Linked DNA regions of Homo sapiens: region 2 is linked to region 1. The links come from fine-mapping of genetic effects on gene expression. Tissue or cell type: testis. Region 1 holds a variant in brackets; the other region holds the start of a gene. All regions are shown on one strand. Distances are between the middles of the regions.

The links. PIP is the estimated chance that this variant, and not a neighbour inherited with it, causes the effect.
Region 2: LRRC4B starts here. The variant in region 1 is fine-mapped to the expression of LRRC4B in testis (GTEx, PIP above 0.99).

The regions. Positions count from the first base shown.
Region 1 is chr19:50,520,774-50,525,773 of GRCh38, forward strand. All of the region lies in intron 2 of LRRC4B (leucine rich repeat containing 4B), which reads right to left. All of the region lies in intron 1 of LOC124904747 (a long non-coding RNA gene), which reads left to right. Among named protein-coding and RNA genes, the nearest start is that of ASPDH, 9.4 kb to the left of the region's middle. The variant A/G (reference allele first, on the strand shown) is at 2,444.
Region 2 is chr19:50,565,634-50,571,435 of GRCh38, forward strand. LRRC4B (leucine rich repeat containing 4B) reads right to left here and starts at 2,802. Exons shown (of 3, transcript NM_001080457.2): 1 at 2,311-2,802.

The sequences.
Region 1 (5,000 bases):
AAAAAGAATTTAAAAAGAAATATAAAACCAAGAATTTTGGGATTGAAGAGGAAAAAACTTTTGAAAAAAAAGTTAAAACTGGAGTGGCCATCCGACCCGGCTGTTCCATTCCTGGGTATTTCCTCAAGAGAAATGAAGGCAGATGTCCACGCAACGGCTTCTATGTGGGTGTTCACAGCATTTTTTTCTCAGGACTGCCTAAGCTGGAGACATCCCAAATGTTCCTCAGCAGGTGAATGGACAAACACTGCGAGGTGTGGCCGTGTAAAGGATGCTGCGGCTCAGCCATGAAAGGGACCTGGCTGCTGTGACCCCCTGGATGAATCTCTCAGCTCAGCCATGAAAGGGACCTGGCTACTGATGACCCTCTGGATGAATCTCTAGGGGGTTACACTGAGCAAAAGACGCCGAACACAAAGGAGCCGGTGCGGTGGATCCGTCCACACCATGCTCTGGGTGTTCTAAGTGTGCGTCTCTGCGTGTGTGGGCAGGTGAGGTATCTGGGGCAGACAGGGAAGGGCATGAGAGAGCTTTCTGGGGTGATTGAAAGGTGCTACATTGGCGTGGTGGTTACATGACGGAAAGCGACTGTTAGGACTCCCCAAACTACACTTAAAATGAGGATATTTTATTCCATGCCAGTGATACATTATTTTATTTTATTTTATTTTTGAGACAGAGTCTTGCTCTGTCACCCAGGCTGGAGTGCAGTTGCACAATCTCGGCTCACTGTAACCTCCGCCTTCCAGGTTCTAGCGATTCTCCTGCCTCAGTCTCCCAAGTAGCTGGGATTACAGGGTCGTGCCACCACGCCTGGCTAATTTTTGTATTTTTAGTAGAGATGGGGTTTCACCATGTTGGCCAGGCTGGTCTTGAACTCCTGACCTCGTGATCCACCCGCCTCAGCCTCCCAAAGTGCTGGGATTACAGGCGTGAGCCACCGTGCCCAGCCAATTTTGTATTTTTAGTAGAGACGGGGTTTCCCCATGTTGGCCAGACTGTTCTTGAACTCCCAATCTGAAGTGATCTGCCTGCCTTGGCCTCCCAAAGTGCTGGGAAATTACAGGCGTGAACCACCGTGCCCGGCCACTATACATAGTTTTAAAAATGAAAAAAATAAGGCTGGGCATGGTGGCTCACAGCAGTAATCCCAGCACTTTGGGAGGCCGAGGTGGGAGGATCACTTGAGCTCGGGAATTGAAGACAATCCTGGTCAACAAAGCAAGACCCCTGTCTCTACAGACAAATACGAAAATTAGCCCTGTGTGATGGCATGCACCTGTGGTCCCAGCTACTCAGAAGGCTAAGATGGGAGGATCGCCTGAGCCCAGGAGGCCAAGGCTGCAGTGAACTGTGATCGTGCCACTGAGCTCCAGCCTGCGTGACAGAGGGAGATCCCGTCCCCAAAATAAATAAATAAATATACAAAATGAAAATAGTAATACCAGCAACTAAGACACATTGAACACATCTTTGGTGCCAGACACTGTTCTAAACATTTTGTGGGTAATAACTCTTTTAATCCTCCAAACTGCCCTGTGAGATGGGCACTATTACCAGTCCTTATTCGATACCTGCAATTCCAAAATTCTTAAGGCCCTAACAATCAGATTTTTCCAAACTTTGACACCAAATCCCACTTGGTGGCAAAACCCGATCAGAACTCATGTGAAGCTATTTTATTTATTATTTATTTATTTATTTATTTATTTATTTATTTTGAGATGGAGTCTCGCTCTGTCGCCCAGCCTGGAGTGCAGAGGCGTGATCTCGGCTCACTGCAACCTCTGCCTGCCGGGTTCAAGTGATTCTCCTGCCTCAGCCTCACAAGTAGCTGGGATTACAGGCACGCATCAACACGCTTGGCTAATTTTTTGTATTTTTAGTAGAGACAGGGTTTTGCCATGTTGGCCAGGCTGGTCTCGAACTCCTGGCCTCAGGTGATCCACCCGCCTTGGCCTTCCAAAGTGCTGGGATTACCGGCGTGAGCCACCTCACCCAGCCACATGAAAGTAAAGCTTTTATTGATCCCACTCGTGACTATCCAAACATTTCATTCTAGAAATTCCCATGTTTCAAGACCACTAAGATATTATAAAACCTATACTATCTATTACTATGTTTCTAATATCGGAATGTCAAAACGCATCAGACCTCAAGAGTTTCACACGAAGGATGATGAATTAGGCCCAGGGAGGTGCAGTGACTTGCCCAAGGTCACACAGAAGTGGACAGCAGAGTTGGGACTGGATCCAGGCCCTCTGGTTCCAGAGTCCTGGCTCTTGACCTCTGACCCTGGCTGCCGCCTCTCAGGGCTGGAGCTGGGGTCCACGGGAGGGGCAGTGCTGGGTCAGAGCACGGGAGGCAGGAGCTCACAGGGTCCTCACTACTGATGACCACGCCGGGTGCACTGAGGCCCAGAAGGCCACACAGCCATTGGATC[A/G]TATCTGCAAAGCCCAGATAGTGGTGTGTGCCAGGGAGAAGGGGACGGACACTGGGGGAATGCGGTGTTACAGTATTAACGGAGGAAACTGAGAACCTCAGATGCATCCTGTGTCATCACAAAGAAGCTGAAGAATTAGGTATCAGAGTATATGCACCAAAAGAAAAAAGAGAAAAAGAGGCCGGGCGTGGTGGCTCACACCTGTAATCCCAGCACTTAGGTAGGCCGAGGCGGGCAGATCAGTTGAGGTTGGGAGTTTGAGACCAGCCTGGCCAACATGATAAAACTCCGTCTCTGCTAAAAATACAAAAATTAGCCGGGGGTGGTGGGGGGTGCCTGTAATCCCAGTTACTCGGGAGACTGAGGCAAGAGGGAGGCGGAGGTTGCAGTGAGCCGAGATCGCGCCACTGCACTCTGGCCTGGGCAACACAGTGAGACTCCATCTTAAAAACAAAAAAGAGGCCGGGCATGGTGGCTCATGCCTGTAATCCTAGCACTCTGAGAGGCCAAGGCAGGTGGATCACCTGGGTCAGGATTTCGAGACCAGCTTGGCCAACATGGCGAAACCCCATCTCTACTAAAAATACAAAAAATTAGTCAGGCATGGTGGCAGGTGCCTGTAATCCCAGCTACTTGGGAGGCTGAGGCAGGAGAATCTCTTGAACCCGGGAGGCGGAGGTTGCAGTGAGCCAAGATCGCCCAGTTGCACTCCAGCCTGGGTGACAGAGTGAGACTCTGTCTAAAAAAAAAAAAAAACTGGAAGGACATACTCCAAGCTTTTCTTAGTAGTGAACTTTATCTGTTGGGAATTATGGACAATTTTTATTCTTGTGTGATATTTTTTCCTCAATGAGGAAAAATTACTTTTACAGTAAGCAGGAATAAAAACAAAACCAAACCCAGATATACCTGAGAGGCAAACAGCGTAAGAAATGGTAGAATCTGTGGCATAGGCAGAATCATAAAATAATAATAATGTATGTCGGTGCTGTCCAATAGAAATAGAATGTGAACACGTGTGTAATGTTTGTTTGGTTGTTTTGTTTTAAGACAGAGTCTTGCTGTGTCACCCAGGCTGGAGTGCAGTGGCGCAGTCTCGGCTCACTGCAGCCTTGACCGTCTGGGCTCAAGTGATCTGCTCGCCTCAGCCTCCTGAGTAGCTGGGACTACAGGCACGTGCCAGCACACCTGGCTAATTTTATTTTATTTTAATTTTTTGTAGAGATGGGGTCTCCCTATGTTGCCCAGGCTGGTCTCAAACTCCTGGCCTCAAGCGATCCTCCCGTCTCAGCCTCCCAAAGTGCTGGGATTATAGGTGTGAGCCACCACACCCAGCCCACATGTGTAATTTTAAATTTCCTAGAAGCCACATTGAAATAATAATAAAGAAAAAACCAAACAGGTGAAATCAACTTTACTAATATATTTATTTAGCTCAACAGGTCCAAAATACTCTCATTTGAACCTGTCATCAGATGCAAACTTGCGATTGAGCCATTTTACACTCTTTATGGTGGAGCTTCGAAATCCAAGGAAACCCAACATGTGTTTTACACCCAGGGCGTCCAGGGCACCTCTCAGTAGCAACGCATGCAGTCCCCGAGCCCAGCCAGCAGCCCCGATGCTGGCGGCTGCCCTGTGAGATGCTGCGGGTTTACTCGGTGCCCAGGGACGCTCTGTGGACACAGTCACCTTTTGTCCATCCAGCAGCCCTAAGAACAAGGACTGTGATCGCCCCGTTTTAGAAAGGAGGAAACAGGAGCCTAAAGAAGTGGCTTGCTCCATGGCAGAGCTGGGCAGGGCTGGCCGGAGCCTGCGCCCCTCCCCGTCTCGCTCGGCCACCTCACACCCACCCATCGCCGTTCCCCGTGGACAGACACGGAAACAGAGGTCACGGGTGTAGTGTGAAGAGCAGAGCCCTGTTCAAATCCCGCCTCCCCCGTCCTGGTTGTAGGGCCTGTCACTTGAGCTCTCTGTACCTCTGGGCTCACTCTTACCACGAGGAGGATGATGAAAAGCACTTCAGAGGGTGAGGGAGAGGAGATGAGGTCCCAGTGTTCAGGGGTGCTCAGCACGTCGTCATTCTCATTGTTATCGTTATCGTTGGCGTTGAGAAACTTGTACCATGCCCTTGGGATTACAGCCCTGAGCCGTCCACTGAAAGGCGGCTCTTAGGGCCAAGAACCGTACTTTTTTTTTTTTTTTTGAGAGGGAGTTTTGCTCTTGTTGCCTAGGCTGGAGTGCAATGGCGTAATCTTGGCTCACTGCAACCTCCACCTCCCGGGTTCAAGTGATTCTCCTGCCTCAGCCTCCCAAGTAGCTAGGATTACAGGCGTCCTCCACCACACCCGGCTAATTTTTGTATTTTTTTTTTTTTTTTTTAGTAGAGACGAGGGTTTTATCATGTTGGCCAGGCTGGTCTTGAACTCCTGACCTCAGGTGATCTGCCCAACTCGGCCTCCCAAAGTGCCGGGATTACACACGTGAGCCACCCTCCCCGGCAAGAACTGTCTGACTGCATCCTTTCCCGCAGAAAATCAGGGCCGCCCCCATCCTG
Region 2 (5,802 bases), 45 kb after region 1:
TTGCTGACTTGGGGTCCCTCTGACAAGTCAGAAGCGGCCTCTAATCCCCCAGAACTCTGGTGGCCAGTGTCCCCCGGCTCCCTGCTGGCCCCAGCAGGCACCCCGCGGGTCTGTCCCACCCTCCCTGAGTCTGTGGCTCCCTGCGTCTCTGCCTCACCCGCGTGTCTGCTCTCTGGGTGGGAGTGGCGTGTGTCCCCGGCTCCCCGACTCTTTCTTTCGGAAATTAAGTGAGTAACTCCGTGACTCCGTGCTGATGCCCTAATTGCCTGTATGTGTGTTTCGGAGGCTGGGTCCCTTCTCTCCCTCTGTGCCTCCCTCCCTGGCTCCCACTCTTCCCTTCCTTGGGTCTCTCTCCCCGCCTTTCGGCGGCTTCACTCTCTGTCCCTCATTTCTCTGTGTGCGTTTGGACAATCCGGTGGCCAGGAGGAGAGGAGCCCCAGGGAGGAGGAGGAGGAGGAAGGTGGGAAGGCGAAGTGGAGGCTGCGGAAAGGCAGGTTAGAAGGCGAAGGCTGCGGAAGATGCTACAGGAAGAGGGAGGTGCGGTCCTGGCCGCGGTCCGGGGGTGGGGGGCGGGAGTTTTCAGGCTCCTGGACCAGGAGGGAAGCCGGCTCCGGCTACTCCCAGCTGCCTGGAGCCCGAGTTCCTGTCTGGCGGCTGCGCGGCCGGGACTTGGGATGTGAGGCGCATAGCAATGGGGCGCTGCGGAGGCGCCACTGCAGCTCCCAGCTGGAGAGGGGGGCGGGGAGGGGGCCGAGGGGCAGCCCCGAGGCTCCCTTCCCCCTCCCCCTTCCCAGCTGGGCTCTCCCCAGGGGAATTCCCCACCCCGACAGAAAGTCACCAGAGGCTGCGGGGAGGGGGCAGGGAGGAGGGGAGGGCGCCTAGGAGGAGAGCAGAGGTGAGGAGGTCTGGGGAAGGAGATGGGGGTGCAGAGAGGAGGCGAAGGGGTGGAGGGGTGGGCAAGAGGCCATCCTGGGCTCTGGAGACTCGAGTCCTGGAGAGAGACTGGCTGGGCCCCTGGCAGGACAGGACCCCAGGGAGGCAGGGGCATAGAGATGGGGGGAACCCTGAGAGCCCGGGATTGATGGTGAGTTGGAAGGAGAGGCTCCCAAAAGGAGAGAGCTAGGATTGGGGGGGTCTGAGACTGGGGAGTACTATGGGGTGAGGAGACAACGATGGAGGGGGTCTCTGGGTGATGAAAGGTCATAGAAGGATGTTTCAGAGAGTGATGGGCTAAGGAGAAGGCGACTGGGGGTGTTGGGGAGAAAGGGGAGAGGCTGGGGTGCAAGGCCCAAAGAGGGGCGGGGAGGGAGTGGGAGGAGGGAGCTAGAGGAGAGGGCGGCTGAAGTGAGGGTCTCCTGGACAGAAGGTCTGGAGAGGGATATCTGGGGGATTGTCAGAGATGGGGGTTAGAGAAGGCTGAGGAGCAGATGCCGTGTCTTAGAAGGTCCTAGAAGAGCAGGTGTGAGGGTCGGAAGCCTGGGGAGGAGGCAGCAAATGGGGGGCGGGGGTCTCCAGGAGGAGAGGTTTCCAGGAGGGGAGGGCGGAGGGAGGTGGGAGAGGCAGTGGTCCTGGAGAGACACGTGCCCAAGGATAGAAGGCCCCAAAGCCTAGTGGGGTCAGGGAACGGGGGTCTTGGAGAGACGGAGGGGCAGGGGTCCGAGCCGCCCACCAGGAGAGGCGGGGTGACCCCAGAGGGAGAAGGGCTGAAGACTGGGGAGGGGGTTGTCTCACTCCCCAATCACCCCCTCCGTCTTTCCCATTTTCACTTCCCAAACTCCCCGGTTCTCCCCGGTTGCCACGGCAACCGCTCTTGCCAGGCGCGGTCACCAAGGAAACCCCGTGCCCGCCTCTCCCCCCTCCCCATCACTGGCGTGCCCCCCCCACCCCAAGCAGCAGCGGTGTGGAGGGTGGGAGGGGCCATGGGGAGAGGAAGAACCTGGACTCCCGCCCCAGAAAGGGGGGCCCGGACCTACGCCCGGAGAGCCCCCCACCCTAAGCCTACTTCCTCAGCCCCACAGCTGGATACGCAGCGACCGCCGGACGCACCCCCCACAACCTGTCCCCAGGCAGCGGCGACAACCACCCCCCCCACAGCACAGAACTCGCCCTGCCCGGAGAACCCCCACCCAGTCGCCTCCCCCACCGGCTTCTGCCTCCCATTAGGCCCCGCCCCCTGTCCTCTGCCATCCCCCCCCATCCCGGAGGAGGCCTAAGACCACTGTCCCCCAATTAGCGAATGCCCCCCACCCACCCCCCGCGGTTCCGCCTCCGGCCCCCGCCCCCGACCCGTGCCCCTTGGCGGCTACTCACAGCGAGGAGAGGGGTTCCTTCCGGGGGGCAGCATGCCCGGCCCGTGGGGGGAGGACCCCCCCAATGAGGCTCAGGAATTTGGGGTGCAAGGCCCGCTGCGGGGAGGCGCGGGGGGCGGGGCTGCGGCCGGGCCTGGAGCCTCTCGCGCTCTCCCCCCTCCCCGGCTCCTGGGTGGGGAGGGGGCTTCCGCAGCGGCGGCGGTGGGGCTGGGGGGGCCGCTCTGCCTCCTCGCCTCGCGCCCGCCTGCCGTCCGGCCCCGCGCCCTCGCCCGCCGCCCGCCTTCCTTCTTGCCTTCCTTTCTTTCCTTCTTTCTTTCCTGGCTTCCTTCCTTCCAGCCTTCCTTCCTTCCTTCCTCCCTCCTCGGGCCCGCCGGCGCCGCTCTCCCCCCACCCCACCCCCCCCCAGGCCCCGGCCCCGGCCCCGGCCCCCGCCTCGGACGGTGCGGCAGCGACCGAGAGCAGCCGAGAGCGGCGGAGACGGGAGCGGAATACTGATGATGGTGGGAGCGGGCGGGCGGAGGGAGGGAGCAGGGAGGGAGGCCCGGGAGGAGAGGAAGGGGGGAGAGAGGGAGGGGAGGGAGGGCAGCGTGGAGAGGGAGGAAGGAAAGAGGGGGGAAGAACCGGAGAGGATGGGAGAGGGAGGGAAGAAAGGAGAGGGAGACGGGAGGGAAGGGGAAGGGGGGGAGGAAAGAAGAGGGAAGGGGAGGAAAGAAGGAAGGAAGTGGGAAGGGGGTGGAAGAAAGAAGAGGGGGAGAAAAAGGGGAGGAGCAGGGGAGAGAGGAGGGAAAGGGGAGAGGGTGTGGGAGGGGAGGGGAGAGGAGGGGGTAACTCCTGCAATAAGGTCCTGGATGAAGGGGAGGGGAGGGCGGGGGGCAGGGGGAGTGGGTAGAGGAAGAGGAAAGGAGGGAGAGGAGGAGTGGAGGGGGAGATGGGTAGAGAGATGGGCAGGAGAGGCCCAGGGGCAGGGAAGTGAGGGGAAAGAGGAGGTAGGGAAGGCCTAACTTTGAGGGCTGCAGGGGACAGAGGGGCCTGGAGGGCGGCGGGGGCTGTGGGGAGAAGAATGGGGGGTGCGGTGTGCGTTGTCAGGAAGAGCAGGGGAAGCTGGCAGGACCCGGAAGAGGCAGGAGGATCTAAGTGGGACAGAGATGAGAGGATGGAAGAGGGAGGGAAGGACCCGTCGGGGGGAGGGGGGAGGAGAAAGATCTCGGGGGAGAGGAGAGAAGCTGGGGAGCTGGAGCTTTGAGGGCCCAAGACTGGGTGGCAAGAGCCCGGGGAGTAGACAGAGTGGGGGAGGGGACAGAGGGCCTTTCTTGAACTCCGCTGTATGCCCGCTTCGTCCGCCCCTCCACCTCATGAAGAGAAGAACCTTCAAACCCATTTTCCAGAAGAGACCACTGAGCTCTTGGAGGAGCCAGGATGGGGTTTGAATGCAGTCTTGGGCTGGGGGTACCCTGAGGGAGATGGAGAATGGGTCAGTTCCTAGCTTTCGTCCCTGGTCCAGACTTGGCAGGTGGAGGCACCTGGGAGGGGCAGAGGGCACAGCCTGCAGCCTCCCTACTCACTCTCCTCTCACCTCCCCCAGGTGTTGGCAGCGGGTGCTGGGGACGCATTTAGAGCTGTGAAGCTGAGCTGCATCTTGGGTGCAGGGAGGGGGAGGGCAGATGCAGAGGCCTCTGGGAGGTCACCGTGACCCTCCCCTCTACCTCCCCGGTCCACTACCCCAAAAGCTTGGGCCCCAAGGAAGGGGGACATCGGGAATCAGGGGCGGAGAAACCCAGAAGGAGGGGTGGCCCCTGTCCAGGACACTGAAGATCCTTCCAGATGTTAAAATTAGCACAGAAGTTTCACCCCTGCCTTGTTATCCCCCAAAACGCTGACTAATAACTGAGGACTCAGGAGAGAGAGAAGAAAGATGAAGGTTCCTTCTTTCAGTGCCAGGGGACCCGGGACAGACTCTCCCTCTTCCCCTTCTCCTCGGAGAGCCCCAGGGAGGGAAAGTGTGGCTGTACCCCTGCAGGCAGAGCCTGGGGAGAGTCAGGGTTGGAAGCTGGAAGGAAAGTGGGCCAGACACATCTATAATGAGCCAGGGTTCCCGAGAGAAGCCAGGTCACAGATGGGTTCGGAAGAGGCGGTTTTGGGTGGGCGCTGGTGGGTGCTGAGCCCTGAGAGCTGCCGAGAGGGGAAACTGAGAAGGGGCTGGGCGAGGGCCAGGGAGTGGCAGGTGGCTGTGGTGCTTCGGGTTTCACCCGCCCCTGGCGCCGCTCAAGTCTAGTTCGTGAGACTGGACCAGTGAATGTGTGTGTGCACCAGGGTCCAGCACAGAGTAGGCCAGGACCGATGGTGATACCAGCAAAACAGAATCACATGGTGGCAGCCCGCGGTTCCTCCTGGTCTCCCACAGGCCAGATGCTGTGCCCAGCACCTCACAAGCGTGGCATCAATCCTGCAACCATGCGGTACCAACTCCTAGGGATGGTGGTACCTGGTGGGCACAGGTGAGAGCAGGCCCCTGATGAGCCCTGAGTTAACCCTTTCATTACAAGAGGGTCTCGGCCGGGCATGGTGGCTCGCACCTGTAATCCCAGCACTTTGTGAGGCCGAGGCGGGAGGATCACTTGAGGTCGGGAGTTCGAGACCAGCCTGGCCAACATGGTGAAACCCCATCTCTACTAAAAATACAAAAATTAGCCAGGCATGGTGGTGCGCGCCTGTAATCCCAGCTACTCGGGAGGCTGAGGCACGAGAATCACTTGAACTCGGGAGGCCTCCAGAGGTTGCAGTGAGCCGAGATCACGTTATTGCACTCCAGCCTGGGTGACAGAGCGAAACTCAGTCTCAAAAAACAAACCAAGAGGGTCTCAGGTGAGAGGCCAAGCCGTGTCAGGTGGGGCCGTTAGAGAAGCAGGGAAGTATTCCAATATTTGAACAACCAGCGAACCCTCTTGGTCCATGCAGCCTAAGTCTCAGCCCTGCCTGGAGGGTATGACTGCCCCTGTTTTACTGAAGGAGAAATGATTTGCCGTCAACCTCCAGAGCTCATCAAGGGTCTTCAGCACCGGGCACTGTTCAGGGCTTTGAGAGCCCGGCCGGAGAACAGTAAGGAGACAGCCCCTGTCCCCGTGGAACTGACCCCTCAAGGTCCTATTTCCAAGAGCAGTGTGAGCAATGAAGAAAATAAGAGGACAATTAGGGAGGAGAGAAGTTGGTGGGCGGTCAGGAGGACAGACTTGAGGTGATCAGGGGAGGCCTCCTGGAGGAGGTGTCTTTTGTGGCGAGGCCAAAATAAGGAGATAGCTCATTGCGTGCACAGGGGCAAGCACCTGGGGCAGAGGCCCCCAGATGGCAGCAAGCCGGGCCCGTTTGAGAGATGGGAGCCAGATAGGTGTGGCGTGGAGGAAGAAGAGAAGCAGAGTGGAAAAAGATGAGGATGCGGCCCCAGGTTTGGCTCAAACACAAAACCAAATCTTAACGCTTCCCACTGTCCCCTAAACCT